Linked DNA regions of Homo sapiens. The protein of the gene in region 3 interacts with the protein of the main gene of each other region in a biochemical or structural test. Each region holds a gene or a part of one and is shown on either strand. Other genes may lie near its edges.

Evidence for each region.
Region 1: the proteins of USP45 (region 3) and MRGPRF form a complex in vitro, tested with the Homo sapiens proteins (one study listed by BioGRID).
Region 2: of the proteins of USP45 (region 3) and SPDL1, one has a biochemical effect on the other in vitro, tested with the Homo sapiens proteins (one study listed by BioGRID).

The regions. Positions count from the first base shown.
Region 1 is NC_000011.10:69,007,658-69,019,181, reverse strand, and holds the start of MRGPRF (mas-related G-protein coupled receptor member F), read left to right. Parts: upstream 1-5,935; 5' UTR 5,936-6,099; intron 6,100-6,633; exon of another isoform or gene 6,634-6,828; intron 6,829-7,850; exon of another isoform or gene 7,851-8,659; intron 8,660-9,213; exon of another isoform or gene 9,214-9,224; 5' UTR 9,225-9,280; coding exon 9,281-9,328; intron 9,329-11,524. UniProt on the Homo sapiens protein: Orphan receptor. May bind to a neuropeptide and may regulate nociceptor function and/or development, including the sensation or modulation of pain.
Region 2 is NC_000005.10:169,599,261-169,608,017, forward strand, and holds the end of SPDL1 (protein Spindly), read left to right. Parts: intron 1-2,019; coding exon 2,020-2,365; coding exon of another isoform or gene 2,366-2,564; exon of another isoform or gene 2,565-4,799; coding exon 4,800-4,947; 3' UTR 4,948-5,518; downstream 5,519-8,757. UniProt on the Homo sapiens protein: Required for the localization of dynein and dynactin to the mitotic kintochore.
Region 3 is NC_000006.12:99,508,727-99,519,979, forward strand, and holds the start of USP45 (ubiquitin carboxyl-terminal hydrolase 45), read right to left. Parts: upstream 6,698-11,253; 5' UTR 6,666-6,697; exon of another isoform or gene 5,315-6,665; intron 1,505-5,314; 5' UTR 1,495-1,504; coding exon 1,395-1,494; intron 57-1,394; coding exon 1-56. UniProt on the Homo sapiens protein: Catalyzes the deubiquitination of SPDL1. Plays a role in the repair of UV-induced DNA damage via deubiquitination of ERCC1, promoting its recruitment to DNA damage sites. May be involved in the maintenance of photoreceptor function.

The DNA.
Region 1 (11,524 bases), on a different chromosome or scaffold from region 3:
GACCCGTGATTCCCAGGAGGCCATGGCGCCCAGATGCAGTGGCTTCACAGACCTCCCCACGAGCTCTTCCTTCAGGCTTGTGGCGGCCACACGGGGCAGCTTCCCAAGCTCTTCCAGCTCCAGTACCCACACAGGGGCTGGCCAAAGTCCCAGTGAGCGTTCCTCTGATTCTCTGACTACAGCTTTCCAGACTCGCACGCCTCAGACCTGCCCACGCCACGTGTGAACCCCTATTTCCCTGATAGTGTGATGTGTCTGTTTCTTGACCCAAGTCAGGGCCGGGGGAGGAGGAGGGCAGGAAGGAGAGAGACTGAGGAAGAGGGACAGGGAGATGCTGCGGGGAACCTGTCATTAAAAGGAGCACATCAGGCAGGGCACGGTGTCTCACACCTGTAATCCCAGCACTTTGAGAGGCCGAGGTCGGGGGATCACATGAGGTCAAGAGTTTGAGACCAGCCTCACCAACATGGTGAAACCCCGTCTCCACTAAAAATACAAATATTAGCCAGGCGTGGTGGCACTGCCTGTAGTCCCAGCTACTCAAGAGTCTGAGGCAGAAGAATCGCTTGAACCCGGGAGACACAATGAGCCAAGATCTTGCCACTGCAATCCAGCCTGGGCAACAGAGTGAGACACCGTCTCTCCCCAACCCCAAAAAGAAGCACATCCACTCACGGGCCTTGTTTAGCTTGTGACACACATGCAGAGCTGTAAAAAAAGTGTGCAAACACTGATTGGATGTTGAATGATGTTTAAGGAATTATTTGTTATTTTTAGGAGTGACAAGGCTACTGCAAACTTTTTGAAGGTTAGTTATTCAGTCCTGTGCTGAAATTGAAGGTCTAATGACGGGACATCACGGATCCGCTTAAGGCGGGACAGAAGCAGGCGGGTGTGGACGAGGTAGACCAAACCTGGTGTCCAGGCTGCCCTGGAAGTTGAGGTGGACAGGGCAGAGGAGGGATGCCAGTGGGGTGCACCACCCACCCACGGGCAGGCACCACACCGAGGAGCTGGGTGTGTGGGAAGGACTCTGCTGGGGGCAGCGAGGAGAATGCACCTGGGAGGCACCAGTGAGGGGTCTCAGCAGGGAGGTGGCCCAGGGGACGGGGGAGAGATGGACACAGTCAGGCAGTATCTGGCATCAGGGAAGTGGGGAATTGGAAAAGGCAGAGAGTCCCACATTGGAAAGATGGGAAACTGGAATGTCCAGACCTCAGGGCTCAAGGCAGCAGCTCTGTGCCTGGACTTACAGGGGCCTGTAGGGTGCCTCAAGGCCCTACCCTCCTGCCCAGCCTGCACATGCACCCTCCCCTCCTGCCCTGCAGCCACCCACTTTGTTCTCCTAGTGCACCAATCCTTTCCATCACGGGGCCTTTGCACCTGCTGTTCTTGATCCTGGAACACTTTCCTGTGGGTTGCGTGAGCAGCCACCTCCTCCTTCTCCTTCAGGTCTCAGTGTAAGCATCATCTCTGTAGAGGAGCCTCCAGCCCCACCCCAGCTAATCAGGCCTGGCCATCCCCATGGATTAGTTTCTTGTGGCTTCTGTAACAAATGACACAAACTTAGTGGCTTAAACAACACAAACGTATTCTAGTAAGAGTTCCAGAAATCAGAGGCCTAAAGTCAAGGTGTTGGCAGGGCTGGTTCCTTCTGGAGGCTCTAGGGGACAGCTTGTTTCCTTGTCCTCTCCAGTTTCTAGAGGCAGCCTGCATTCTTTGGCTGGTGGCCCCTTCCTCACATCAACACATGGCCCACTACTCATTCTGATCTCCTGTCTCCTTCTTACAAGGACCCTTGCAATGACATAGGGCCCACCTGGATAATCCACAATGATGCTCCCATCTCAAGACCCTTCACTCCATCCCAACTGCAAAGTCCCTTTGGCCAGGTGCAAAGTCACATGTTCTCAGGATCTGGGGATTAGGACATCAACATCTTTAGGGGCCATTATTCAGCTCACCTCCCATCCCTCCCTGCCTACCACCTAAGTTTCTGTCACTATGCCTGTTTGGTTTTCTCAATGCACTAATCACAGGTTGGAGTTCTTATGTTCAGTTTTTTCTATTTATCACCTGCTCCCCATGCCCCATGTCTGGTTCTTCCACAATTCTTTTCCTAGCACCAACATTGCTGGTGTTCAGTACAAATGTGTTGAATTAAGGTAAGAATGAATGGATGGGTGGATGGGTGAGTGGGTGGGTGGATGGCTAGATGGATGAATGGATGGATTGATAGATGAATGGATGGATAGACGGATTGATGGATGGATGGGTGGGTGGATGGATGGATGATGGATGGATGGATGGATGGATGGATGGATGGATGGTTTGGTGGATGGATGGATGGATGGATGGATGGATGGATGGATGGATGGATAGATGGATGGATGGATGGTCTGGTGGGTGGGTGGATGGATGGTTTGGTGGATGGATGGATGGATGGATGGATGGATGGATGGATGGATGGATAGATGGATGGATAGATGGTTTGGTGGGTGGATGGATGGTTTGGTGGATGGATGGATGGATGGATGGATGGATGGATGGATGGATAGATGGATGGATGGACGGTCTGGTGGGTGGGTGGATGGATGGATGGATGGATGGATGGTTTGGTGGGTGGATGGATGGATGGATGGATGGATGGTCTTGTACTTGGATGGATGGATGGATAGATGGTTTGGTGGGTGAATGGATGGATGGATGGATGGTCTGGTGGGTGGATGGATGGATGGGAGGATGGATGGATGGATGGATGGATGAGCAAGTAGATGGGTAGTTGAGTGGGTAGATGAGTAAGTGGATAGATGGAAAGATGGACAAATTAACAAATGAATGGTCTACCACATGCAGGACAGAGGATAATGTGGACTTTTGCTGAGATTCCCAAGATGCACCTTCCAGCACAGAAAGGCCCAGCCTAGTGGAGGAGGGGAACAGAGCAGAAGGAGAGGGGTCCCTTTCACTATTAGGAAAGACAGCTAGGCCTTGGTTCAACCTTTTTTCTTTAGACAGAGTCTCGCTGTCTCACCCAGGCTGGGGTGCTGCAGTGGCGTGATCTCAGCTCACTGCAACCTCCACCTCCTGGGTTCAAGTGATTCTTATGTCTCAGCCTCCCAAGTAGCTGGGACTACAGGTGTGTGCCACCATGCCCAGCTAATTTTTTGTATTTTTAGTATAAATGGAGTTTCACGATGTTGGCCAGGCTGGTCTGGAACGCCTGAGCTCAGTCAATCCACCTGCCTCAGCCTCCCAAAGTGCTAGGATTACAGGCGTGAGCCACCACACCAGCCGAATGGCCCTGCACACCTTCTTCATCGCAGGTGCATTTTACTGTGTTTCCTTTGACCTGGTCTGCCTCTCTGTTGGACATCAGCTCCCGGAGAGCAGGGACCTTGCCTGTCCTATTCATCAGCACAGAGCACAGTGCCTGGCACCCTGCAGGTGCTCAGGAAATACCTGTAGTCTTTACTGAGGATGGTGCTGGCTGCAGAGGGGCCACGAGGGCTGGTCCACACCCACCCCCTCGTCCAGGGAGCAGCAGGGCAACCATAGGCCACAGAAGCACCTGGCAGGGAGACATCTCTGTCCAGAACCGACCTCCTTCCCCCAAGGATCCCCCCAACAGAGGAGGGTCCAGGCCTGCACCCTCAGGAGGGGACATGGGGAGAGGCGTAGGACCATGAGGCCCTTGGCAAGGGATGATTAAAAACAAAGTTCTACTGGGAGGGGCAGGGGAGGACTCCTGACGGCAAGTGGTGGCTGTTTAGAAAGTGAAGGCTGGACGAGCAGGGACCATGCCCCATTCTCAGCATCAGCCAGAGCCCTGAGCCTTGCAGGGAGGGCCTGGCACCAGCGGGACACCTGGAGCAGGGAGCGGCGTTGCTGAGGTGCATGAAGAGCTCTTTCTCCCGGCTCCTCCCGGCATCCAATCCCTCCTTGCTATAACCCTGTGGGTCATTATCTTTTCCCATCTGACAGCTGAGGAAACCAAGGTCCCCAGTGGGAAGGAAACTGTCCACGGTCACCCAAGCCTGGAGGCAGCACAGGAACTCCTTGCACTGGGCCTCTGGGCACCACCCCACACACACAGCCCACCACTCCCCCAGGGGGTGGGGAGAGACCCCCAGGGTGGCTGCTACAGACTGCATGTTTGTGGCCCCACCCCCTGCCCTGCTGCCCCACTGCCCTGAATTCATGTGTTGACATCTAATCTCCTGTGTGAGGTGGGGTGTTTGGGAGATGAGCAGGTTATGAGGGTGGGGCCTCATAATGGCATTAATGCCCGAGTAAAAGAGGCCCCATTGAGCTCCTTCGCCTGCCTGAAAGGGGTCACCACATGGGGACTCAGTGAGAGGCTGGGTCCTCACCAGACGCTGAATCTGTGGAGGCCTTGATCTTGGCCTTCCAGCCCCCGGAGCCATGGGAAACAAACGCCTGCTCCGATAAGCCCCTGGTCTGCGGTACTGCAACAGAGCAGCCGGACACACCAAGCCCACGGGAAGGGGACTCCACAAACTCAGGCCAGGACGACCTTCCCGTTTACAAGCGCCTCTCGCTTATTTTGAGAGAAACAGATTTCCATACCAAATAAGGCGGTGGACTTCAGAGCCTCTGCCCACTTCACACAATTCCTTTTAAGTGTCCAAACGCAATTACACTTGGAACTCGCCGGGATTCAGCCTCCCCCGGCCTCCCCATGTAAACAAGCGTTCCAGCTGGGCCCCAGCTGGCTGCCCTGGAGAGGAGGGGACGGGTCACCACCCTGCCTGCTGCCTCCAGCCTCTCTCTCAGCCTCAGGCATGGCCCGTGAGCCTCCAGGATCCCAGAGTCCCTCCTCACCCCATCCCTGAAAAACGGACCCCAGGAGGCCAGCTGAGCCGCGCAGGGAGCAGTGCGAGAGTCCCTCTTCCACGCTGAGGTTCGCACATGGCCAGGACAAGCAGGAGGCAGGCAGCTCCCAGCGCAGGTGCAGGGGCAGCTCCGCTTCTCATTTCCCTTCAAGATGCCCACAGAGGCACATCTCTCCCAGTCTGGGCACTACACTCCTGCAGGGAAAGTTCAGAATTCCCTCGGGCTTCCTGGACCCTGAGAAAGTTGGCCCAGGGTAGGAGGGGAGCCTTCTCATCACCCCCTCCTCCTGGCCACCCTGCTGGCTCCCGCACCCCCGACTCTGCACCCCCACCCCTACCAATGCTCAGTGCCCCAGGCATGAACGCGTTCCAGGACCCCCCCCCACCGCCCGCCTCCAGGGGCTCAATGGGGAAGGGGGACCTGACTCATCCTCCCGCTGAGCAGCGCAGGCACCAGGCACCACAGCCCGCCAATTTCCAGCTTGCTTGCCGAGCGCCGTGATTTTCCACTTGCGCCATCTGATTGCTATTAGGGCTGGGGAAAAGGGAATTCCTGGTTCCATAAGCCCCCAGGGGGCCCAGGCCGAGTCCGGGGTGGGAAGGGGGAGGGGTGCCGCTTGGGCGGTGCTGACCACCTCTGCCAGTTCTGCACTGCCCCTCCATGGAGCCCTCGCCCTGCTGCCCCCCACTGCTCTGTATCAGCCCCTGAGTAAATTAAAACAACGGGGTGGGGACTAGCCCCTCCTGGGCCAGCCTGCCCCGAAATGCCCACTGGGGGCAGACCAAAGACGCCAGGCAAGTGTACAGCCGGTGCTCCCTCTCCTGGGCAGCCCTGCCGAGCAGCAGAATGTGAGGGAGATGAACAGCTGGACTCGGGCTGCAGTGCTCGGGCCAACGTGACGTCACCAGGCGGAGAGATGAGTTCCCGGTGGGGCTCTGGGGGGGGCTCCTGAGCGGGGCATTCCTTCCTGAAGCCTCATCCCCGCTCAGCCCTGCTCAGCCCCTCCTCCTACTCCCCTCCCCCTCCCCCTCCTGCCGGGCCAGGAATTGGGTTTGGGGCGGGTTCTGCTTCCAAAGCCATCTCTTCCAGCAGGAGAGGGCTCTACTCTGAGCTCCTATTTTCCAAGGCTCCGGGCCGCGCTCGGCGCTGGCCTGCTGCCCCGGCGGGTCCGCCGGCCGGAGGCGGGAGTCACAGGAAGAGCCCTCCACAAAAGGAGGCCTCGGCGGATCAGGACAGCTGCAGGTAGCTCCAGGGGCCCAGGGTCCAGGGGAGGGTGTTCCAACAACCGGGGCTGCAGGGTGAGGGCCAGGCAGGGAAGGAAAATGACGCGGGCACTGTAGGGGCAGAGAGGTGGACGCTGTCGGGGCAGGCAGCTCCCAGAAATCCTAAGGCCCCAGGCAGGGAGCCCTGAGACCCCAGAGAGGCTGTCACTCACCGGAGAAGCTCCCCTGCCACTCCTGAGGCTCCAGGGTTCCAGGGCCATGGAGGAACTTTAAAAGTCCCCCTCCCGTGGCAGGACCTGACCCCTCTCAGCTGGCCTCACCCCCAGCCCCACCGTCCAGCTCCTGCTCTGTGCTGCTGGGGGTGAGGGCTCCCTCTCGGTCCCTCCCCCAGCCTCACTGGCCATTCAAGCATGCATTCTAGAGGGGCTGGAACGGAACACCCAGCAGGCAGTGTCCCACACACAGGGAGATGGCTCCCCCTGCTCTCAGCCCTGGGGTGCACATGGGGTGTCCGTGTGGGCAGCCACAGGATGTTGGGCAACTGCAGTCCCACCTTCTCCCAGGCCTGCGGCCTGATGAAGCTGTTGGCCTTGGATGGAGGCGGCTCCTGGAATGATCTGCAAGGTCTCAGTCCCCCCAGACAAGCCTCTTCAATCCAAGCTGTTAAGCAGGGGACTCCAGACCCGGAGTGAGGAAAACAGAGGCTCTGTGTCTGGGGGAGCGAGACAGGCCCCTCTGATGGCGGCACAAGCGGCTAAGGAGAGGGGCTGGGACAGCCCCAGCGGCGTCGGGGCTGGGTCATGGTGGGATGGAGTGAAGGGAGAGGAGGAGCTTCCTGCGGGCAAGGCTGCAGGAGGCTGACAGGTGGCCAGGCCACCCTTGGGCTTGCTCCGAGGGGAGGGTCAGGTGTGAGCTGTGCTGGCAGCTTTTTGGGTCAGCTTCAGTGGAAACTAGTTCTGTCATAGCAGCCCAGATCCCACCCAGAGGAACACACATACACATGTACTGACACGCACGCCCCATCCACGTGTCACACACATGTCCTTTAATATGGCCCATCTGGGGTCTGCTGGCTTCTAGATCTTTCTGTGCATGCGTGAAATCGCTTTTCAGGTTGTCCCTGGCAGGACAAGGACAAATGCACAGGGACACCCACATAATGGAGGGACGCAGATGGTAGAGAGGGGAGCTGGGGGCCCCCACTGCATGCCCACCTGCAGCGTAGGGGGGAGCCCAGCCCACTGCCTTTGGGGCACTAGTTGGTGTGGCTGGGGTCTAGCCTGGCCAGGGTGAATGGATGAGGCTCCTGTGAGTCAGGACATCTCTGGAAACAAGGCTGGGGGCCCAGACCTAGGGGTGGTGGGTGTCCAGAAGGGCCACCAAAAAGAGTAGGGGCAATGGAGAGAGCTTGGGGGGCTCTTACCAGGCGCCCGGAAGGATGAGGGCAGGTGATAGGTCTGGGGTTGCAGGGCAGGAAAGCTCAGACAGGCCCCAGAGCGTGGAGAAGTTACGGCCTGTCTGTGGCAACGGGACAATGGCCCAACTGGAGTCCAAGGAGGGAGACTTAAGATACAGGTCGCAGCACCAGCCATCTGCAAGCCCACTGCACACACATCACAATGCACTGGCTCACTCCGGCACACAAGGTGCCCCCACCCTGGGACACCCCGAAGACCCCAGGCTGAGTCAGCCGTAGGCCAGGCACAGGTGCTCACAAACGCCCTTTGAAGGCGCAGAGCGGCGCGGTCTGGCAGCGCGGGGCCGAGGGGAGCCAGGCCACTGGGTGGGAAGGGTCCTGGGAGCGGCCCCTGGGGCCACACTTGCGCCACCAGCTCCGGGAGGCCCAGGGTTAAAGAGGGGGCGGGCCACACGCGCAGACGGCCACCTCTTCTAGCCAATGGTGGGCGCGGAGGCCAGGAGTACGGCCCGCCCCCGGGCGGGAGGAGTGCGCGGCGGGCGGGGGCACGTGGCTGGCTGAGGCCGGGCGGACCCGCGCGGCGCAGAGGAAAGAATTTCCGGGGAGTTGAGCTGAGCAGGATGCCCAGCTCTCCCCTTGGGAGAGGAGGGGCCCGGCAGCCTGCGACCTGGGCTGTGCCCAGCAAGGCCCTTCTCCGCTCACAGCCTCAGTTTACCCCCCCAGTACAGCAGGGAATAATAATAGATGCTTCTCTGCGGGGAAGGGGCACAGGGCTTCACGGGGAGAAGCTTCCTCCAAGGGGTGAAGCTCAGGTTGGGGGACCGGGATCAATTCCAGAGGACCCAAGGCAGGCAGACCCATGAGGTCTGGCCGGCCAAGGTGGACCAGCCTCCAGCAGGGTCACCCCCTACCCCAGGCCTCCCATTGGCAGCCCTAGGGTGGGTGCAGCTTCCCCTCTCTATGCCAGCAGTCCCTCCCTACGGCAGCTGCTCGAAACACAAATCTGCAAGGCTGCAGGGCATGGTGTGGCTATGGGTGTGCCTTTGGGCAGGTGACCTCACCCTCTAAGCCCAGGAGCGCCCATCAAAGGGGCATGAGGATACCTGGCCCATAGCTGGTCATGAGGACCAAACCAGATGATGGGTGTAGGCGGGCTGGCAGGGTAAGTGGTGGTGACAGTGATGCTGATGACCGGGCTGTCCTGCCTCCCAGGCACATGTAGGGGAAAGGCCAGATGCCTTAGCATGTTACAAACCGCGGCTCAGCCAAAGCCCTCCTCCTCCAGCAGGTTCCCCCTGCCAGGAATGATCCCTCTTCCCCTGCTCCTCCTTCTGGGACCGATTGCTGGGAAACCCCTGTCCCCACACCAGGCAGGGCACAAAGGAAGTGCCCCAAAAATGTGTGTGGGGAAGTAAATGTATGTCTGCAAAAGCAGCCTGGCTCCAGAACTCTCACAAGAAAAGGGAAAGGAGAGGGCTTCTTTTCCAGTGAGCTGCGGTGGGGCTGACGCGGAGTCCACAGGCAGGAGGGGGCCGTGCCCCAGGGGTGACCTCCAGAATCTCACCAGGACAGTCCCACAATGCCCCTGCTGCTGAGGGTGTGGGGTGATTGCCTTTCCTCTAAGGTGATGGCTGAGAGCCACAGGCCTTGGGGGCCTAGGCACGGGGGTCCAGGAAGGGGAGGGGTCCCTGCTGTCCTCATCCACCCTCTCTCTGGGCTTCTGCCAGGTGGGTGTGCAGACTGGTGAGCTGCCAGCAGGGGCCCAGACGCGCCAGGCCTGGAGATGGCTGGAAACTGCTCCTGGGAGGCCCATCCCGGCAACAGGAACAAGGTAAGTGCCACAGGCGGAGGGCCCTGGTCTTGCCCAGACGGGTGTGGGTGGGAGGGGCAGACCCAGCCCAGCATCTCCTCCCCCATCCCCCCCTTCCTGGCCCCACTTTCCAGCTCTGGACCCACCGTGGGCAGTGGGCTCCTCTGGGCTATGTGGCCGGGCACAAGTTCCCTGGACCCTCCTACCCTCCTGTCCTCATCAGTGAGGCAAGCACCAGGACTGGACCTCAAGGTCCCTCGCTGTGCTGACACTGTGGTCGCCTTGTAGCATCCTTGCAAGGTCTTGTTTCATCTCTTCCCTGCAGAGGTGGGGCAGTCAGCTACTTACTACAGCCAGGCGGGCCAGGAAGCCCTGGGACGCTGACTCCAAGGTGGCCCTGATGTCATGTGCTCCATGGAGCCTAGGGGGTCCTGGGCCACCCCGAGAGTGTTGCCCCAGGCCAGGGTCCATTAGTCATGAGTCACCCACCCTGAGACTCTGACAACCCCTCCAGGCTGACCCTCCTCCTGCCCTCAGCCAACCTAGTCCCCTACTTCTCTGAATCCCTTGAAAATTCTGGGATTTCCTTCGCTCTCAACTTCGAAGGATCTCTTGAATTCCTATCCATCCTCTTCTGCATTTGAGGAAACTGAGGCTTACACCCAGGTAGTAACTTGACTGGGATCAGCCCCTGGGTCAGGAGCAGAGTGGCAACTCCAGCCCAGCCCTGGGGATCTCACCCCCACGCCCTTGGGCCTTGGGCCCTCTCCCTCTTCCCCGTAGTGACCGCTGTGGAGTGGCGGCCGCAGGAGGCAGAGGTTGGACTGGTAGGTGGGGTGAGGCAGTCTGCAGAAACTCCCAGCGCAAAGGCAGAGCCCAGGGTGGGGCCGGGCTCCAGAGCAGGCATTCTACAAGGCAGTATGCGGCTGGTCACGGCAGCTACACGCCCAGTGACTCACCCGGCCTCCCCCTCTGACTCCAAGGAGGGGATTGCAGACTTTTTCCAGCGTGCATGCATACAAGAGGCACTGAGTAAGCTGACCGCCTCCATCCAGCCCCTTGAAGCCCAGCTCTTTCCCAGCACCTGAGCTGGTCCTCTTGGGCCTGTTTGGGCACCAGATCCTACGGTCTAGTTCCCCAGCCCAGAAGAGTGTCCAGGTCACCCACAGGAAAGAGAAGCTAAGGAGCGGGATTTGGGGCGAACAGACCAGCCGACAGGGGTTGAGCCTATAAATGTATTTAGAGAATGGCAGGGAGGGAGCAGGGCCCCCTTACAGTGCTTGCCCTGACCTCACAGAGTCTCCCCAGAGTTTTGCCAACACCTTCAGTCCTGTTTTCAGATTCCCCTTGACCTGAGCAGGCTAGGAGGTCCCTCCCTTTGCAACGGGGTGTCCAACCCAGAGAACAGTCTCTCAGGACCCAGCTTTCTGCCAGAGCTGGGAGTCATCTGAAGGTGGCAGAATGGATCCTGCCTTCATAACCTTGCCTTTGGTTTTGTTAGGGAGCCCTGAGCAGTGGGAACAGAAACCAGCCTTTGAGGGGAGATGCTGGATGTGGGAAGAGGAGTGACTGTTCTCCGGGCAGGCAGCCTTTGCCTCTGGGGGGAAAGGTCGGAGAGGACTGCCGGAGAGCTGAGCCAGCCTGTAGATAGATGGGTTGTTTGGCCTGCACAGCATGTTTAAATGTTAACATTTAAAGATCGGGTGTTCCACATTCCAGTCTAGAGTTCAGGCTTCTCCAGGGAGCGGGGGAGGACGATCAGCCACTCCAGTGCACCCAATCCCTGGCCCCCACCAGCTGGAGCACAGCAGGCTGCCCGCTTCGCTCAAGAGAGGGGCTCTCAGATTTGCCACTGTGCTCCCTCTCACCTGTTCCTTGCACCTGGCCCACCTGCATGCATTTATACACAAGCCTAGACCCTGAGGGCAGGACCGATACTCAGCTGGGATGCACTCTTACAGCCACACCAACAGTTAAAGTATTGAAATGCTTCCCTGCAGCTTGATAAATAGCTGCTGCCTCTCCTCCACCCCAGGGACCCCCTGGACTTTCCCACAATCTGGAAACCCCAGGGGCAACCCTGGCTCATCAGGAAGCCACCTCCCATCCCACTAGAGGACAGGGTCCAGCTCCGGGGAAGGCCGAGATCCACTCGTTGTTTTTTTTTAAATGTAACTTACAAGTGATTTTATTTCTTCAAATAGTTTCGTGTTTGTT
Region 2 (8,757 bases), on a different chromosome or scaffold from region 3:
CATTTGTAGTTATATACCTATAGTTAATAAAGCAAATTTATTGTGTAAAATAGGTAGGAAAATTCAGGGAGAACTGGATACTGGGTGTGCCTGAATATAACATGTATCCTTTTTGGATATCTAATTTCATCATACTGTATAGTAGAAACTTGAGATTTGAGACTTTCCCATTTTAAGATTACAGTATTTTATGTCATACCTAATAGTTTAATTATGTTGAAGCAGCTGATGTTTGGAAGCTATACGAGGTAGGACTGTTTATAGAAAATCTAAAGTAATGGAGACTTTAAAAAGGTGGGTCTTTATCTCTGCCTCTGATGGAAGTCTGGAGGAGGCCTTCCAGGACTGGGAAAGCACTCCACGGTATCAAGATTCAGGCTTCTTGTGTTTGTTGGTCTGCTGCCATCCTGTGGAGCAGAATTTAGTCATGCAGCCTCACCTGCTGACAGGAAGGGCTGAGAAATGCAGTCTTGATTCTCAGGGGCCATGTTCCTAACTAAATATTGGGAATTCTTTTATTAAGGAAGAACAGTGAGCCAGGCGTGGTGGCTCGTGCCTGTAATCCCAGCTCTTGGGGAGGCAGAGGGAGGAGGATAGCTGTGCCCAGGAATTTGAGATTTGCTTGGGCAATATAGCAAGACCCCATTCTCCACCAAAATGGGGGGGAAAGGAAAGAACAATGAAACATATTAGGGAATATCTAGCAAGTCTAATGACTGAGCTGGAAAGTAGCCTAACCATACAGTCTCTGCATCTTATATACTACAGAGAGTGAAGTTTACTGTATGTAAATTCAAAAACAAAAGGCCAAGTGTGAAGGAGTCTAAGAATGTGATGGTTCTACAACACCCCTTCCCTAAAAGAGTGTTACATGTTTTAGGTTAAGGATTCTCAACAAGTTTTTGTCCCCGCACTCTGCACATGCCTCAGTCTCTCTTCGTATTGTCTCAGTGAACTGCTATGATTCTCAACAATAGTGGGGAGGTTGCCAAAAATAGGAAGGTTTTTACACAATTTTAAAAGGCTTCTCTTGCTCTTAACTCTTTTTGTTTCTTCCATGATTCTAATAGGCTCCCCTGATTAAGAATTATCCATTATGAATTTCAAACATCTGTTGAACTGAACACAGCAAATAGACAGGAGGCAGGGTAGTGAATCCTGATAATGTGGGTTTCAAAGGAGCAGTGCCAGAAAAAGGGGAAATCATGGTCTAAAAGCAACAATGTAGAGCAAAAACAGCAACCCCTTGTGCTACCAGTGTTCCTCAGACTCCACTAACATTTTGATTTTGAAAATGAAACACATCGATAATGGGCATAGGGAAAAGATATTAGAGCAGTTAATTCAGTGGCTGTGTTTATGACCTGTTTAGATAGAATGATATTAGGCCATGAGGATAGAAGGCATTGCAGTAGTCTTTGATGAGACATGATAGGATTGGACTAGGGAAGTATCCATCATAAAAGTAGTCTGATTCTGCTTATATTTTGTAGGTAGAGCTAACAGGCATATATTACCAATATTCAGAAAGTTTGGCCTATTCTTGTCATTTAATCCTTCTAATACACAATACCAAGTGAAGTGGGTGCTTTTAATCCCCATTTTACAGATAAAATGAAGCTCAGAGAGGTTAAATAATTCCCCAAAGACATGGCTGTCACATACGAGGATTAGGATTCGAACCTGGACTCTGCCGCTGTCTCTTCATCTCCACACTGAGATCTTATGAACCACCTTTTTCAAAACACCAAGAGAGAACAGTGAAGCATTCATGCCTAAAGTCAAAATATTGAATTCCCAAGGAAAAATATATAGCCAAATAAACTTTAAAATATATAGTTTATATAGATTCCATGATAAAGAATAAAAGGTAGAAACAAAGGATGCATTTCAGTGAGGAGATGGTTGCATTTTAAAAGAATGGAAAAAGGTATACATATAACTAGTTCTGGCTTCTTGTGTTGATTGTGTCTTTGTTTTCTTAGATTTTTTCTTTTCCCCACTCGTTTTTATTCTCAGAGACAGTTGAAGTGCCTGTACTGAAAAAGAGGCGTGAGGTGCTCCCTGTGGATATAACCACCGCTAAAGATGCATGTGTCAACAACAGTGCTCTCGGGGGAGAAGTTTATCGATTACCGCCTCAGAAAGAGGAGACACAGTCCTGCCCTAACAGTTTAGAAGATAACAACTTGCAATTAGAAAAATCAGTTTCTATATACACACCAGTAGTCAGTCTCTCTCCTCACAAAAATCTGCCCGTGGATATGCAGCTGAAGAAGGAAAAGAAATGTGTGAAACTCATAGGAGTTCCCGCTGACGCTGAGGCCTTAAGTGAAAGAAGTGGAAACACCCCTAACTCTCCCAGGTCAGTGTCCTCTTTTCCTCCAGGCAGCCAGCAGACCTCTCCATCTCTCCTCTCTCGCTGCATGAACTGTGCTGTCTGTTTCTTTATCTACTTTCTTACAATTGCATGCAGTATAATTCCTCAGTTTCATCTACCTACCTTCAACTTTTCCAGAACTTTAAGAAAGACTAAACTGATTGCAAAGGGAAAGGACTCTTGAATAAGGCAATCACATTAAAAAGTTACACGTTTCTGTTTCATGAAAGGGAATATCACAGTTTAACACATCTCTGAATGTTTTATCAGTTTGAATACATGTACTGTTATTTTTCTCCTGGTTCAAGCATGGCCATGAAAGAAAAATTAACTTACTTTCTCAAAGGGCTTTCCAGTAGTCTAAGAAATTTCAGCCTTCTAGGAAACTTAGGTGAATTTTTTATGTCTTTTGAATTGCTTATCCTAGGCATTCAAAAATGGGCTTCAATACTTATTTTGACATTTTTACATATCAAAGCTAACTCATTTTCATTGTTTCCAAAACTTGAAAGCCTCTAGTTTCTGCATAATTGAGTTTGTGACTAAAAGAAATAGCGTCAGATATGTGTGTCTGAAGGAATTAATGTCCCAAGGGCTTTGTCTTAATAAAAATAATTGAGGTCAGAAGGTAAGAGAAAGTGAATGGAAGGGAAAGGTAAGTAGCAGTGGCTGAGGCTCGAGTTCTGGATGTGCGCAGCAGGAGAAGTGAATGAGGAAATTGAAGAAAGTAAAAGAAAGATGAAGGATGTCTGCATGCAATGGGATTGTTAGAGGCATTTAAAACAAATATCTAGACATTCAAAAAGATGTGCCAATAACTAGCCTAGATTATCTCCTATGAAATGAGATGTTGAAGGTGCTACTAGGGCTACCTTAGTCTTAGAGAGTGGAGACAGATTAATAAGACATTTTACTAATGTGCATTTGAGTAGAGAGAGTAAGACAGCCCTGTTTAAAAGGGCTTATATGTTTTATCTGATTTCTCTCCAAGTCTTCAGTGCTACTAAATGTAATATTCAACAGTAAAAGCACTTTAACAATGTTAGCTGCTATTATTATAAGGCATAGTAATTTTATTACTCCCTCCTTGGATTTTTATAGAATGTTATAACCTCTGAGTCACATAAAATAAAAGCTTACCATTCTTAAGGAAAAAGTAACTTCAAATGAGTATCTGCCACATACCCATGGTTTCAAAGAGTTCTGAAATGAATCCAGCAGATTATGCCTGTTTATATGTGATGCATTGTATAAACATCCTTGACCAGTGTATATTTCTGGAGGTGGATTTCCAGAATTGATAAGTGCCAGCCTTGCTATCTGTATTGTCTTCATTCCTTTTTCTGCCTTTTTTTGCTTGATAAAAAATCACTTAAGCAAATGTATGTGGCTAATTGACTCAAGTAGCACGTTGGAAACTTTTTGTCTTGTTCGTTAAACAAAAAATAAAATACCACAAAACATTTGTGTGTGTGTGTGTGTGTGTGAGTCCATCTGCTAACTTAAAATGTTTCCGACTCTTTGTTTTCTGCCTGTTTAACTTAGATACACAATCCTAAGATAATTTTGGAACAATAAATATGGCTTTTATTGGGAACTTCACTATTGCATGCTTTACAAAACTAATTGGTGTTCTTGTTACCGAGAATCTTTACAGGCCTTTAAGAATCTCTCTACTGTTTATCTTTTCTTTATTCTACTAGTTGAAACTCAATTTTTTAATATGAAACAAATAGACATCTATTCATGCAGCCCAAGATTCCATGTTATTTTTGTCTTGCCTTTTGTATGTCATGTTAACATTAAAATATTGCTGTAACATTTCAGTTTTTGTGTTAGGTGTGCTTATCATGATAGGTGCCCTGTCATATTTTCTTTAATTTAGGGCTTGCCATGACTTTTTAAAGATATTCTTTAGACTTAAAAAATAATTGGCCCAGCGTGGTGCCTCACACCTGTAATCCCGGCACTTTGGGAGGCTGAGGCAGGTGGATCACGAGGTCAAGAGATCAAGACCATCCTGACCAACGTGGTGAAACCCTGTCTCTACTAAAAATACGAAAATTAGCTGCATGTGGGGGTGCGCACCTATAGTCCCAGCTACTCCGGTGGCTGAGGCAGGAGAATCGCTTGAACCCGGGAGGCGGAGGTTGCAGTGAGCCGAGATCATGCCACTGCGCTCCAGCCTGGTGACAGAGTGAGACTCTGTCTCAAAAAGTAATAATAACAATAATTGAGCCTATTGATATAAAAAGACTTTTAGACAGCCAGTGACTTAATATTCTTACAGTATTAGAGTCAACTATATTTTTTTTCCTTGAATACCATGCCTTATTGGAGGCCCATTATACTGGGGGTTTGTTTCTTCAATCCTTCATAACCACATTTGAATTCAGAGTGGATGCTTTAATGCCTGTAGGTTAGCTGCTGAATCAAAGCTTCAAACAGAAGTTAAAGAAGGAAAAGAAACTTCAAGCAAATTGGAAAAAGAAACTTGTAAGAAATTACACCCTATTCTATATGTGTCTTCTAAATCTACTCCAGAGACCCAGTGCCCTCAACAGTAAAGACTTGTCTTTAATAAGAGTACGGTGCCACTTGCCTCAAAAGTTACTATGGTGCTTAAGATTGTCTTGATCTGACATATATCACCTTCTGGGTTATTTACTCATTGTGCCAGGACCTGGCATTTTCATGTGCCTTTGACCAAGTGTTCAGAATTTGCTTGACTCTAACCTGGAGAGCTTCTTAAGTGATGCCCCTTCATGGAGCTTCTATGACAGTGAATAAACTATTAATTGAAGGAAAATGTTATAATTAATGTATCTATTTGCTGCATTGTATATGGATTAAATGATAAAAAACAAGTAATCTACCCTCAGAGCCATGTATTTGAGAATGCTTCAATCATATTTTCCTATGTACTTTTTTTTATAAACTTAGTTTTAGACTATGTTGTAAAAATGGGAAGGTTGTAAACTATGTTGTAAAAATAGGAAATGTGGCTTAAAATATATACATTATATTGTTTCAGGATTTTGTCAGTGTTTAAAGAACCAATGTTCATCTTTGTATTTATATACATGATTTAAATTTTGTCTAAAATTTTAAATAAAACTGCAGTGATTTATCCTTAAATTTCTTACTCTCTATAGGTAACAGGATGTTATCAAAAGGGAGTAAAAAGCACTTTGGGAGGCTGAGGCGGGTGGATCGCTTGAGCCCAGGAATTCGAGACCAGCCTGGGCTACATGGCAAAACCCCATATCTACAAAAAAATACAAAAAATTAGCTGGGCATGATGGTGCACACCTGTAGTCCCAGCTACTCTGGAGGCTGAGGTGATAGGATCATCTGAGCCCAGTAAGGAGGTCGAGGCTGTAGTTGAGCTGTGATCATACTACTGCACTCCAGCCTGGGCAACACAGCAAGACCCTGTCTCAAAAAAAAGTGGGGGAAATAAATAAGAGGAAAAAAGAAACCTCAGGAATTCTTAATTCCCTTATGTATAATTTTATATATAATTTTATGGTTAATTATATGTACATATACAGATGGTCTCTGACATAACAATGGTTTGACTTAATGATTTTTCGACTTTTCAGTGGTACAAAGACAGTATGCATTCAGTAGAAACTGTACTTCAAGTACCCATATGACCATTCTGTTTCTCACTTTCAGTACAGTACTCAATAAATCACATAAGATATTCAACACTTTATGACAAAATAGACTTTGTGTTAGATGATTTTGCCCAGTAGTAAACCAATGTAAGTTTTCTGAGCACATTTAAGGCAGGCTAGGCTGAGCTATAATGTTCATTAGGTTAGGTGTATTAAATGCATTTTTGACTTAATATTTTCAACTTATGGGTATATCGAATTGTAACCCCGTTGTAGGTCAAGGAGCATCTGCATATATACATACATAGATGATAGATAGATAGATAGATAGATAGATAGATAGATAGATTTAATTCTAAACTTTCCAAATACTCTTTCATTTAAATGATTATAGTTTTACAACAATTTCATATATTCTATAGGTAGGAGAATTAGGGTTTTCCAGAGAAATAGAACCAATAGGATGTGTGTGTATATAAAGATTTACTTTCAAGAATTGGTTCACATGGTTGTGGGGGCAAGTCCAAACTTGTAGGGTGGGCCAGCAGACTGGAGACCAGGGAAGGGAAGAGCTGATGAGTTCAAGTCCGAAAGCCATCACACTAAAGACCCAGGGAGATAACTGCCACTGCAGTTCAAGTTCAAAGGCTGTCTGCATCAGAATTTCCCTTTGCTGGGGTAGGTGAGTCTTTCCATCTAGGACTTCAATTCATTGGATGAAACCCATTCACATTAGAGAAGGCAATCTGCTTTAAGTCCACTGATTTAAATGCTGATCTCACCCAAAAACATCCTCACAGAAACGTTCAGAATAACACTATAAAGCAATTAGACCTAAAGAAATATGTAGCATACTCCACCCAAAGGAGAATACACCTTCTTAAGTGTACACAGAACATTGTGCAAAACAGACCAATGTTATGCCACAAATCTGGTCTCAATAAATTTTAAAAGTTGAAAAAGTATCTCGACTACAATGGAATGAAATTAAAAATCAACAACAAGAAAATCTGGAGAATTCACAAATACTATGTAGAAATAAAACAATACACTCTTTAAACAGCAGATGAATCAAAGAAGAAATCACTAGGGAAATATTTTGAAGATGAATTTTAAAATATTTTAAAATGAGTGAAAATGAAAACACAACAATAACAAAACTTGTTAAGTGTAGCGAAAGCAAAAGCCCTCAGTGGGGAATTTATATTTGGAGATGCCTACATTTTAAAAAAGAAAGCTCTCAAACTAATAACCTAACTTTATACTTTGAGGAACTAAAACAAGAAGAGAAAACTAAAAAGCTAAATCCACGGCCAGCAGAAGGAAGAAAATAAGAGATGAGAACAAAAACAAATGAAATTGAGAACACGAAAACAATGGAATCTATGGAACCTAAAGTTTGTTCTTTGAAAAAATCAAAATTAATAAACTTTTAGCTAGACTGATCAAGGAAAAAGGAGAAAAGACTCAAATTACTAAAATAAGGAATGGAAGTAGGGACAATACTGTCAATCTTATAGAAGTAAAAGGGGTTATGAGAGAACGCTATAAACAATTACAAATTATGTATACTAGATGACATAGTCAAATTCCTAGAATCAAACTACGAAAACTTATTCAAGAAGAAATAAAAAAAAAACTCAATAGAGCTTTAAAAGAGGGAATCAAATCAGTAATCAAAAAAACTTTCAAAAAGAAAAGCTCAGGACCAGATGGTTGCACTAGTGAACTCTACCAAATACTTAAAAAAGAGCTTATCTTTCTAAAACTAGTATGTCTCAATCTCTTCCAAAACATCAAAGGAGATTATTTCCTAACTAATTCTATGAGGAAAGTATTGTCCTAATTCCAAAGCCAAAGACATCAGAAGAAAACTACAAACCAATATCCCTTATGAATATAAATGCAAAAAATCTATAAAAAAAATACTAGCAAATTCAATCCAGCAGCATACTGAATTATACACCATGACCAAGTGGGATTTGTCCCAGGAATGCAACGGTAAATTAAAACAGGAAAACCAATGTAATATACTGTATTAGTTTCTGGTGAAATGAATTACCACACATTGAATGGCTTAAAACAATAAAAATGTACTGTTTTATAGTTCTGGAGGCTAGAAGTCTGAAATCAAGTTGTTGGCATGGTCTTGCTCCCACTGAAGGCAATAGAGAAGAAATATTTCCCTACTTTTGGTGGCTCCCAGCAATCTTTGGCATTCTTAGCCATCACTCCAATGTCTGGCTGTCTTCACACAGCCCACATCTCCATCTCTGTGTGTCCTCTCCTCTTCTTATAAGGACACCTTAACTAAGTATGATCTCATCTTGATCCCTAACTAATTATATCTGCAAAGACCATACTCAAAATTAGGTCACATTCTGAGGTTCTGAGTGGATAAATTTTGGGGGGATAGTATTTGAACCAATACACACACCATAGTAACAGAACAAAGAGGGGGAAACACCCCTGACATGATTACCTCAATTGACACAGAAAAAGCATTTGAAAAAATCCAGTATATGTTTATGATTTTTAAAACACTCAACAAACTGGAAATAGAAAGGAACTTCCAAACTAATTAAAGGGCATTAATGAAAAAAATAATGAAAGTATGAAAAAATCATACTGGTAAAAGACTGAAAGCTCTTCCCGTAATATCAGGAACAAGAAAAGGATGTCTTATCTTGACACTTATATTCAACGTTGTACTGAAATTGATAGCCAAGTCAGTTAGACAAGAAAAAGAAACAA
Region 3 (11,253 bases):
TCTCTTTACATGATTCACGCTGATAGCATGACTTACATGTTGGCAAGTTAAACCTACTGAATAAGATAAAACAAAATCTCAACATTTTCTTTGCTACACCAAAGTGCTACCATTACTGAGCAAACCTCAAAAGTATTAAATGCTGTTAACTAAAAAGCACAGAGATTGAACACACAAAATAACTCAAAAGATATATGCTATATAATTCCATTTATATAATGTTCATGAAATAACATAATTATAGAATGAGAAGAGATTCATGGTTGTAGGGAGCAATGGACGCAAGGCAGAGGGTGTTGCTATAAATGGACAGCACATAGAGTGGTGATGACACAGTCAAGTATCTTGATTGGTGGTGGTTATACAAAGCTATACATGTACTAAAATGGGATGATGTTTCGATAGCCAGTTTGCTGCACTGAAGGATGTCTGAATTATCTCTTTAAATATCATTAGGACCTTATCTGATGTCCCTAATTTATTAGAGTTTAAATTTTTGAACTAATTTTAGATTCACAGGAAGGTATAAAGAAATATACAAGGAGGTCTCATTCACCCTTCACTGAGCCTCCCCTGATGTTAATGTTTTGCACTGCTATAGTAAAATATCAAAACCAGGAAGCTGACGTTGGTACAATCCTTAGAACTTATTCGGATTTCAGAAGACATAGGCACTCATATGTGAGTGTGTTTGTGTATAGCTGTATGCAACTATGCATACCTAAAATGGAAAAAATATATTAAAAATATCCCTTTAAATGGAGAGAACTAGCAAGAAAGTGAGGAAAATCCTCAGAGGCCCAAATCAAAAGCATGAGGCTAAAGAGAAAACCAAGCCCTGAGGCCAGCAGCTCCCAAAAGCCATCTGCCAAGCTCTGGTGGCTTGGTGACATGGTTTTAATAGGCCATGAGAAAGAGACCAAAAAAAAAAAAAAAGCCAATCTAAGTTACTTCATGTTATAAACTAAACAAAATCCTAATAAAAATGCCAACAGGATTTTTTGGAACTAGAAAAGGTGATTCTAATATTTATGCAGAAAACAGTAAAAATAAAGAGTAACAGATTTCTTAATTAAAAACATATACAGTCTTCCCTCAGATACTTGAGGCAGGGAGGTGGGGTGGGGTAGTTGGTTCTAGGACCTCCCCACATATACCCAAATCTGTGCATACTCAAGTCCCGCAGTGGGCCCCGTGGAATCTGCATTTAGAAGTCAGCCTGCCAAGTATGCAGTTTTCACGCATCCCAAGAATAGTGTATTTTCCATCTAGGTTTGGTGGAAAAAAATTTGTGTACAAGTTGATCCTCAGCGTTCAAACCCATGTTGTTGAAGGGTCAACTGCATTGTTATTTCTTCTCAACACTATTTGGGATGCCATATATCACAATTTACCAGCAATATCATCTGAAGAGTCTTCATCATGAGGTACAGTAGGCCTTTTACTTCTTTTGGCTTTCTCAGGTAAAGCTTTAGTTGGATCTTTCACCCGCATCTGTTATTTACTGAAGGGATTGAGGGAAAAAAATTCATACATTTTAGTCTTCAAAATTAAAATTTTATATTTTATTTAATGTGTATTAAAACTGAAATGACTTCAATTTCAACTGGTCCGGGAAATCAACAGAGGAAGAAGAGGGGAACATCACTTGAAATGAAATAAATCTTTGTTAAATCAGTATACACATGGTATATTCCATTGGCTTTTGCCAACTATACCATTATGGACTAAATGTTTGTGTCCCCACTCCAAATTGATATGTTGAACTCTAATCCCCAAAGTGATGATACTTGGAGGTGAAGCCTTTGAGAGGTAATTAGGTCATGTAGGTGGAGCCCTCATGAATGAGACTGGCCTCTTATAATAAGAGGCTAGAAAGCTACCTTTGTATCCACATGAGGATATACGAGAAGATGGCCATCTATAAACCAGGAAGAAGGCCCTCACCAGATACTAGATTTGCCAGCATCTTGACCCTGTACTTCCCAGCTCCCAGTATTGTGAGAAATAAGTCTGTGTTGTTTAAACCACCCAGTCTATAATAATTTGCTATACCAGGCTGAACCAAGACACAACCCCTAAATATATGATGTCCAGGTGAATGACCAAAACTAAAGTTTTCATCAACGGAGTAAGTATTGCTTCTGGATAATGAGTTCTCTTTACCCTTTCCTCCCTTCTGCTAGCAAGGAAATAGTAGGAGCTGGATGAGCCATACTGGATCAAAAATGGATAGCTGTAAGCCAAGCATAGTAAAGCCACTCTATACCTGTGTTGTACAACTAGCACTGGAATATTAAGAGAAAATTAAATTTCTATCTTTTTAAGCTACTACATTTTTGGGGGTTTTTCACTCTAGCTTTTTATCATGAAAAATTTTAAACATCTACAAAAGTTAAAAGAACAGTATAATGAACACTCATATACTAATTAGATTCCACATTTATATTATTATTACTATTATTATTATTATTATTATTTTGAGATGGATCTCGGCTCACTGCAACCTCCACGTCCTGGGTTCAAGCAATTCTCCTGCCTCAGCCTCCCAAGTAGCTGGGATTACAGGCGTGTGCCACCAGGCTTGGCTAATTTTTTTTGCATTTTTAGTAGAGATAGGGTTTCACTGTGTTAGTCAGAATGGTCTCGATCTCCTGACCTCGTGATCCGCCCACCTCAGTCTCCCAAAGTGCTGGGATTACAGGCGTGAGCCACCGTGCCCGGCTATTATTATTTTTTGAGACAAAGTCTCACTCTGATGGCCCAGGCTGGAGTGCAGTGGCCTGATTTCAGCTCACTGCAGCCTCAACCTCCCCAGGCTCAGGTGATACGCCCACCTCAGCCTCCCAAGTAGCTAGGACTACAGGTGCACACCACAATGCCCAGATAATTTTTTTGTATTTCTTAGTAGAGATGGGATTTCCCCATGTTGCCCAGGCTGGTCTCGAACTCCTGGGCTCAAGCAATCCACATGCCTTGGCTTCCCAAACTGCTGGGATTACAGGTATGAGCCATGGTGCCCCACCAATTCCACACCTATTAACAATTAGCTATGTTTGTTTTTATCTAAATATCAATATGTGTGTATAGAGAGACACATATATGTATGTGAGTGTGTGTATATATATATATATATATATATATATATATATATATATATACACATAGTTGAACTATTTGAAAGTTGTAGAGATCTTGACAGTTCATCCCTAAATACTTCAGCATGTATCTCTTAAAAATAAGCACATTCTCCTATATAACAATGTAATCATATCTAAGAAAATTAATAATTTTCTAATATCATCTCATATTCCATCATATTCTAATTTCCTTAGTTGACCCTAAATTGTCTTCTATAGCTGGTTTTTTGAAAAAGATTCAATCAAGGTTTGCACTTGATATTGGTTATGTCTCTTTAGTATCTTTTAATCTATTAACAGAACAGTTCTTCCAACCTGTTACTTGCCTAAGACTTTAGCTTTTTAAAGAGATCAGGCCAGTGCATGAGTCACCTTGAGGGTCTTGTTAAAATGAAAGTTCTGATGCAACAAGTCTGGCACAAGACCTGAGATTCTACCTACCTAAAAAGCTTCTAACTGAAGCCACTGCTGGGGGCCCATAGAATACTCTTTCGACAGCAAAGTTATATAATGTCTCACACTGAATTTGTCTCTTTCTTCATAGTGTTATTTACCTCTATCCCTTATATTTATTAAAAATTCAGTTAATTATCAAAGATTTTAGATACAAGCTAAGCATTTTTTAAAACTACTATATTTTGGAGTCTCTGTTAGAGTAGCTTGGCCTACCTTTTACTCTCCTGCCTGGTGGCTAAGCAACATCGCAATTTTCATGGTTGCTGACTTACTTCTCAATGATCAAGGTAATGAATCTTTCAATTCAGTACTAAATTCCAAATCTTGATTTATTCATTCCATAATTCACAATAAGGGAGCTTTCAAGTTTACCATTAAGTCCAACGGTCATCACTACTGAACTAAGTTGCAATAAATTAAGGGCTTCCGGGTTAGGAACATGTAAAAAGCCTCTGAGTTCCTTGAGCACTTCATCTCTACCTTCTCCCTCCAAACTTCCTCATCTACTCTCCCCTACAGTTCCACCTTATAAAATCACTAATTTAAGTATCCCCTTCTCTGACAGCAACTTCCCAGTTCTTCCAACTTGCCTGATCAGCCACTCATATTTTCCTATAGTGTCCAGGCTGACAAGAGGCTGCATCTCAACAAGTCCTTCCATGACCCTTACAGCAGGGCAGGGAGAAGTGGAAATGGCAAATGGAGAGCTGCTTCCTAAAGCAAGTCACATGGCACATTTAACTTCAAGCAGACATGGAGAGGGGTTGCCCATGTACAAAGAGTGCAGCATTACATGTACCCAAAAATAGGTGAACCGGAATACTTGTGCAGAGCCTTAAGGACTACATCACCTCTCTCGCAGAACCCAATCCTAGATGAACCCAATTAACCATTTTCTCCATGTCGGGAGAAAGTCTCTTAAGAAAGCAGACTAGGTCCATTATTATTCACTTCACCTTCTGGTCAACTTACATACTATCCACAGAGCCATTTCAAATCTTCTTCACTTTCCTCAAACCTCTAACCCCTCCAACTCCCAACTAACTTACCAAAAACTGATCTAGTCTTTTATAAGGGAAAAGAGACATAAGCAGACGGCAAATTTGATCTTTCTAACCCCAAATTTGCAAACCTACCTCCATCAATTTAAATTTGATGTCCTGAAAAGAGATAGGTATAACTAATAAAGTACAGGGAAAATGGCCTATGAGAAACTGATTATATTTTCTCGCTGTGGTACAGATAAGCTCTTGATAAAGATGAGCATTAACACAGATAATGCTAGCAAAATAATAAACAAAACCAGGCATTTGACCTACATACTGTAAGCAACCTGTGCCTTTTTTCAAAAACACTGACTCAAAATTAACTTGGTAATGTAGAGGCAATTTCTGATGATTTTTCTGCCATATGTAATGTCTAAACAGACAGAATCATTTGGTACAGTAACCCAGAATTCGGCAATTATTTATCTGTAGTTTTCCAATTTCCATTTGAGGCAAAAGGGCAAAATTAAAAGTCCAATTATTAGAGCTTCCAATACTTTTTATCATCAAAATTGTGTCTGGGCACTGGAGACTGGGAAGGATGGGAGTGGGGTGAGGAATGAGAAATTGCTTAATGGACACAATGTACATTATTCAGGTGATGGTTACACTAAAAGCCCAGTACCACTAGGAAATATATCCTCGTAAAAAAACGGCACTTATATCCCTTACCTTTATACAAATTTACAAAACTGTGGCTGAGGATCTCCGTGATCTCCCCCACATTTAGAGCTTTGATAGGATGCACGGGACTCAACATATAGTTGAATTCATGGCTGACATTTATTACACAATGCAGTATGGATATAAAGGCTCATCATAATAGAAAAAGACACAAGCGGAGTCTGGAGGAATCACGTGTAGGCTCCTTATGCGGTCTCCCTCCCAAGAGGGGTCAAACAAAACACATCCTTCCTCCATCAGTGAAAATGCAGCAGTTTCCGCGCAGGGAAGCCCATTAAAGACTTGGTGTCCCGGATTTTTACAGAAGCTGGTAATTTCGGCATAAAACATACTGTTCAGCACAAACCCAAAAATCTAAGTTCCCAGATGCCAAACAAGCACCAACATTGCAAGCAGTCCTTTCTAAGGATAGCAGTCTTAAGGCCTGCTATGTTAACTCTTTTTAGCACAAATATGTTCTGGCCATTTTTCTCATGCGGTTTTCCAAACAATAAACTTTACAGTTTTCAAGTCACCATCACTTAACACTTGTCTTTTCTCTAAAGTAGGATGTGCAACTAAGTTGTTTAGAAAGCTTTGTTTTTAAACAGGCTATGCAAAAAGCCCATATCCTTAAGAAAAAAAAATCCTTTTTTCCTACTCTTGGGCAATTATTTATGGGGGTTGGAAAGAGAAGAAAAGGTCACTATCTCCTTTTATATACCAAGCTCAAAAAGATGAGCAGCACTTATGGTTTTGCTGTGTATCACGCTCAGTTCTAAGCACTTCACAAATATTAACCCACGCAACCCTCACAACCACCTTAGGAGATAAGTTGCTATTATTTTCCGCATTTTACACTTGAAACTGAGAAAGAGAAGTGAAGTGACTTGCAGAGGTCCCAAAGCCAGTAAGCGGTGGATGGAGATGCGGACCCAAGCAGTCCGGCCCCGGAGCTCCTAATACACGACGCTTCCAGAAAAGTCATTAGACAGGCTTCCTCCGGTCACCAACACACACACACCCCGAGGATGTGAAGAGAAATGCGCCGCGATGAGGCGGACGGAAAGGTGTGGGGCCGCCGCGCGCCCAGGTCACCAGGGGACTCGGGCCCCTCCCAGGCCAGCCCCGACGCCCAGGGCTTCTCCCGCAGCCGCATGGACCCGGAGCCGGCAGAGCGGCGCTCACACGGCCCTCGGTGACCGCCCGGCGCCCCCAGGGATCAGGAAGCCGAGTGGGGTGGGGAGCCTCTCTTCCAGCCTCGCCCACCCACAAGGGGGTCAAGGTCGCCGAAGCGAAGACCGAGAAACTGCGGCGACCATACCGCCGCTGCGACCAAAGCGCCGCGTTCTCAACTCACCCCGCCGGGCCGGGCCGCAGCGTCTACAACCTGGGGAGACTGCGCCTGCGCGCTCGTCCCGCTCCCGGCAGAGGTGGGGCCTCGTTCGCCCGCCCCCAGCCAGGACCGGGAGGGTTCCAGGCGGCGCGCCCGGGGCCCGGGAGCGCGGGGAGGGGTGAAAGGGCGGGGCCGGCTTGCGTGGCGCCTGCGTTCTGCGTGTCCGCAGAGCCCGGAGAGTCCCTGATAATCTAAGACTCATAGCCACCGACTAGCAATTTGTTAGGATCCTGGGCCAGCGTGCGCACCTCGGATGTTGCAGGAGTCCGGCTTAAGTCCCACTTGTTGCTGGGCACCTTCTGAAACAGCCTCCGATTTCCCTCCGTTACCCTCCTCTGAACTCTTTTTTTTTTTTTTTTTTTTTTGAGACGGAGTCTCGCTCTGTCGCCCAGGCTGCAGTGCAATGGCAAGATCTCGGCTCACTGCAACCTCCGCCTACCGGGTTCACGCCATTCTACTGCCTTAGCCTCCCGAGTAGCTGGGACTACAGGCGCCCGCCATCACGCCCGGCTAATTTTTTGTATTTTGTTTAGTAGAGACGGGGTTTCACCGTGTTAGCCAGGATGGTCTCGATCTCCTGACCTTGTGATCCGCCCGCCCCGGCCTCCCAAAGTGCTGGGATCACAGGCTTGAGCCACCGCGCCCGGCTCCGCCCCCACACCCCCGCCGCCCCCTGAACTCTTAAAGTCACATCTAACATTCGTCATATATTATTGTGGTTTTTCCCCCATTGCTGTTGTCTTACCTATCCTTCTCTCTTCCTAGCTAGATAGTACATTTCTTGAAATACACCTATACCTCCTCAAAGCCCGGTTATCTGTTGAAGTGGCCAGCACATTGCATGTTTAGTAAAAGTAGTTGGTTTGAAAATATTTTGTTTCAATCATGGATATTGCAAATGCCAACACTGGTTATGGATAGGTTCTAAAAGTCTCCTGATCTTTCACAACTCTTCAGCCAAGGGACAAATGTGGCTTTAAGGATAAGAGCATTGGCGTAGAAATCAGAAGATACGAGAGTTAAAATTGCAAACACTAAATTTTTCTTTAAAAACTCTTCTAACAGTATTTACATGTGGAGAACTTGGCAAAGAAGGTTGATATTTGCTTATATCGTACTTAACAAGGACCATTCATTTAACAAACATAATTGAGCACAGATATGCCAGTTGCTGTTACAGGTATAGAGGTACACTATCATTTTGGGGTTAGGATAATTTTTTTCCCTAGGGAAAAAGAAAATATTCCTCAAATAAGAAGAGGTCATGTGGTGTAATTTTGAAGGCAAAATTGTCTACTTCATAAATCAAAAGCTTTCATGTATTTTAACTTTGGATTTGACCTAGAACTTGGAAGAACAAGAACAAGCAAACTTGAGCAAATCTAAATAATTTGCATCTTAATTGTGTCACTGTAAAAGAGATTTTAAAAAATATATGTGGAAACCCAGTTTATGATTGATTTTTTAAAAGGGATTGAATTAGATTATGGAAATTTAGGTTCTTTTCTTCATAAGAAAAAAATTAGAAATTATCAAATACCATACAATACTTAAATTTTCTTGGAAACGACAAAATTCAAAGCTATCTTGATTTCCACTAGATAGACCCTTAGCATAACCAAAATCTCCAGAGATTTCATTCTTTGTTTCAAAACTTGGCATAAATTAAGGAAAATTCTCTAACACTATTTTATTTTATTTCTGATGTTCCTCATTTACCTTTTCACTTAATTGAATGTAAAATTTACTACTTGATGGATTATTCAAAGAAAGGAAATTATTTTTAAATATTACTCAGTAAGTATGTTTTAGTGCTATTACAATGACATTATAACAAAACATCAAATAAAAATATAGATTACCTTAAGATTACCTAACCATGTATTTTCCAAATAATGCTAAATATCTTAAATTTACCATCATGTTCTGTTTGGAAATATGGGGAATCTTTGTTAAGCTGTAGGCTATATATATTCCTCTTATATTTCTATCAAGTGTATTTTTTTCCTTTTTTTGTTTTTTTTTGAGACGGATTCTCTCTCTGTTGTCCAGGCTGGAGTGCAGTGGCATGGTCTCAGTTCACTGCAACCTCTGCCTCCTGGGTTCAAGCAATTCTCCTGCCTCAGCCTCCCTAGTAGCTGGGATTATAGGCACTTGCCACCACACATAGCTAATTTTTTTTTTTTTTTTGTATTTTAGTAGACAAGGTTTCACCATGTTGGCCAGGCTGGTCTTGAACTCCTGACCTCAAGCAATCCATCTGCCTTGGCCTCCCGAAGTTCTGGGATTAAAGGTGTGAGCCACCGAGCCCAGCTCCTTTTTATCAAACACCAAATTGAACCAGATATCAAGTATATATTTTTAAGATACACTCTTTATTTTAAAAGTAATACCTGCTGGTTTCTCATCTTCCCCTCCTTCCCACACTCCCATTTCCTCTTCTCTGCTTGCTGTTTTCTGATATATAGTTTTAGGCACTGTCTTTGTGCGTACACCAGGCATTTGTACCATGTTTTTATATGACTACCTTTATGCTAAAAGATAACACAGCTTAGATTACAGTCTACATTCTCTTCTATGACTTGAATTTTTCACTTCACAGTATATGTCAGACATATTTTCATATTAACCTATTTTTTTTTTTTTTTTTTTGAGACAGAGTCTTGCTCTGTCACCCAGGCTGGAGTACAGTGGCATGATCTCGGCTCACTGCAACCTCTGCCTCCCGGGTTCAAGCGATTCTCCTGCCTCAGCCTCCCGAGTAGCTGGGGCAACGGGCATGCGCTGCCACACTTGGCTAATTTTTGTATTTTTAGTAGAGACGGGGTTTCACCATGTTCACCAGGCTGGTCTTGAACTCCTGACCTCAGGTGATCTGCCTGCCTCGGCCTCCCAAAGTGCTGGGATTACAGGCGTGAGCCACCGTGCTGGGCCATATTAGCCTCACTTTTTTGAGCAGTTGCTTAAGTCTCTTGTGAATGAATGTTTTTATTTTTTCATCAGTTTCTTGTTAGTGTACACTTGTCTTTGCTTACTAACACAAGTATTCTCAGTAAATTGTTCACTGTGGAAATGCTGAGTCAACAGATGTTCATTTAAAGTTTTGATAAAAATTCTTTAAAAAAAAGAGAATCACATGAAAGGCCATACATTTCCTAATTTTTCATTTTATTAGTCTGTTATATGGGGACTTAAAGTTGATTTTAAAAGAAATGGGTGTGAAATGACTTTATTGGTCAAAAATAAAATAAAATAAAAAGAAAAGGGAAAAATCCCAAGTCTCTTAAAAATTGTCTTCCTTCTGCCGGGCGTGGTGGCTCACTTCTGTAATCCCAGCACTTTGGGAGGCTGAGGCGGGTGGATCACTTGAGGTCAGGAGTTCAAGACCAGCCTGGCCAACATGGTGAAAACTCGTCTCTACTAAAAATACAAAAATTAGCCAGGCTTGGTGGCTACTGGGGAGGCTGAGGCAGGAGAATCGCTTGAACCCGGGAGCCAGAGGTTGCAGTGAGCCGAGATCTTGTCACTGTACTCCAGCCTGGGCAACAGAGTGAGAATCTGCCTCAAAAAGAAAAAAAAAGAAGAAAAGAAAAGAAAAAAAAAAAAGAAAAAAAGTCTTCTTTCCAATAGCCTTTCACTAACACATGAGTAACAACAAAAAATTAAATTAGTTGTTTGAGAATTAATGATTCATATCAACTCAGCACTAGTAAATCTTTCTCAGAAAAGTGAAAACTATTTCTCCCTCTTTTATCAATTTTAAGTCTTGCTTAAATTATTCCTTAACAATGATGGAATAACTTGGACACAATGATCAAGATAACTAGGAACAATGATCAAGAACCTCTTTTGACAAGATCTTTTTGCTGCAAGGACTCTTAAATAAACTAAGTTTAGCAGTGTGCTATATATGGAAAGGCATATTTATCTCCTCAGAAAAAAAAGTCCTACATAAAAATATTTTTTAAATAATAATTAGTTATGAGCCCTAAAAGAATAATTGTTTAGTAATACTTCTCCTGCAAAAGCAGAAATCAGATTAAATATTATTCAGTGAGGCCAAGTATATTGTTTCCCTATCTTGTGTTCATACTACCTGTGATTTATGATGTATATTTAGAATGAGGATGCCACAGAGACTACATGAATCTACAGTATATAGTGATATCTTAGTTAAAAGTGAATCCACAAAATAAATTACACGGAGACTATGGTTAAGCTCCAAATTATTTGGAAAATAATTATAAATGATGTCATTGGTCTAGAAATCTGAAATGGTTTATAGCTTATTAAATTATTGATAACTGAAGAATTTAAAAGTAAATGCTTAATGAAATGATTCCTTGGACATACACTTTAATAATGCCATTTAAACATGAATATTTTAATTTTTTTTTTGAGATAGGGTCTCACTCAGTCACTCAGGCTGATCACAGTGCACTATAGCCTCATACTCCTGAGTTCGGGTGACTCTCCTGCCTTAGCCTGCTGGTAACTGGGACTACAGGTTGGAACCACAGCACCTGGTCAAATATTTTAATTTTTAACTGTA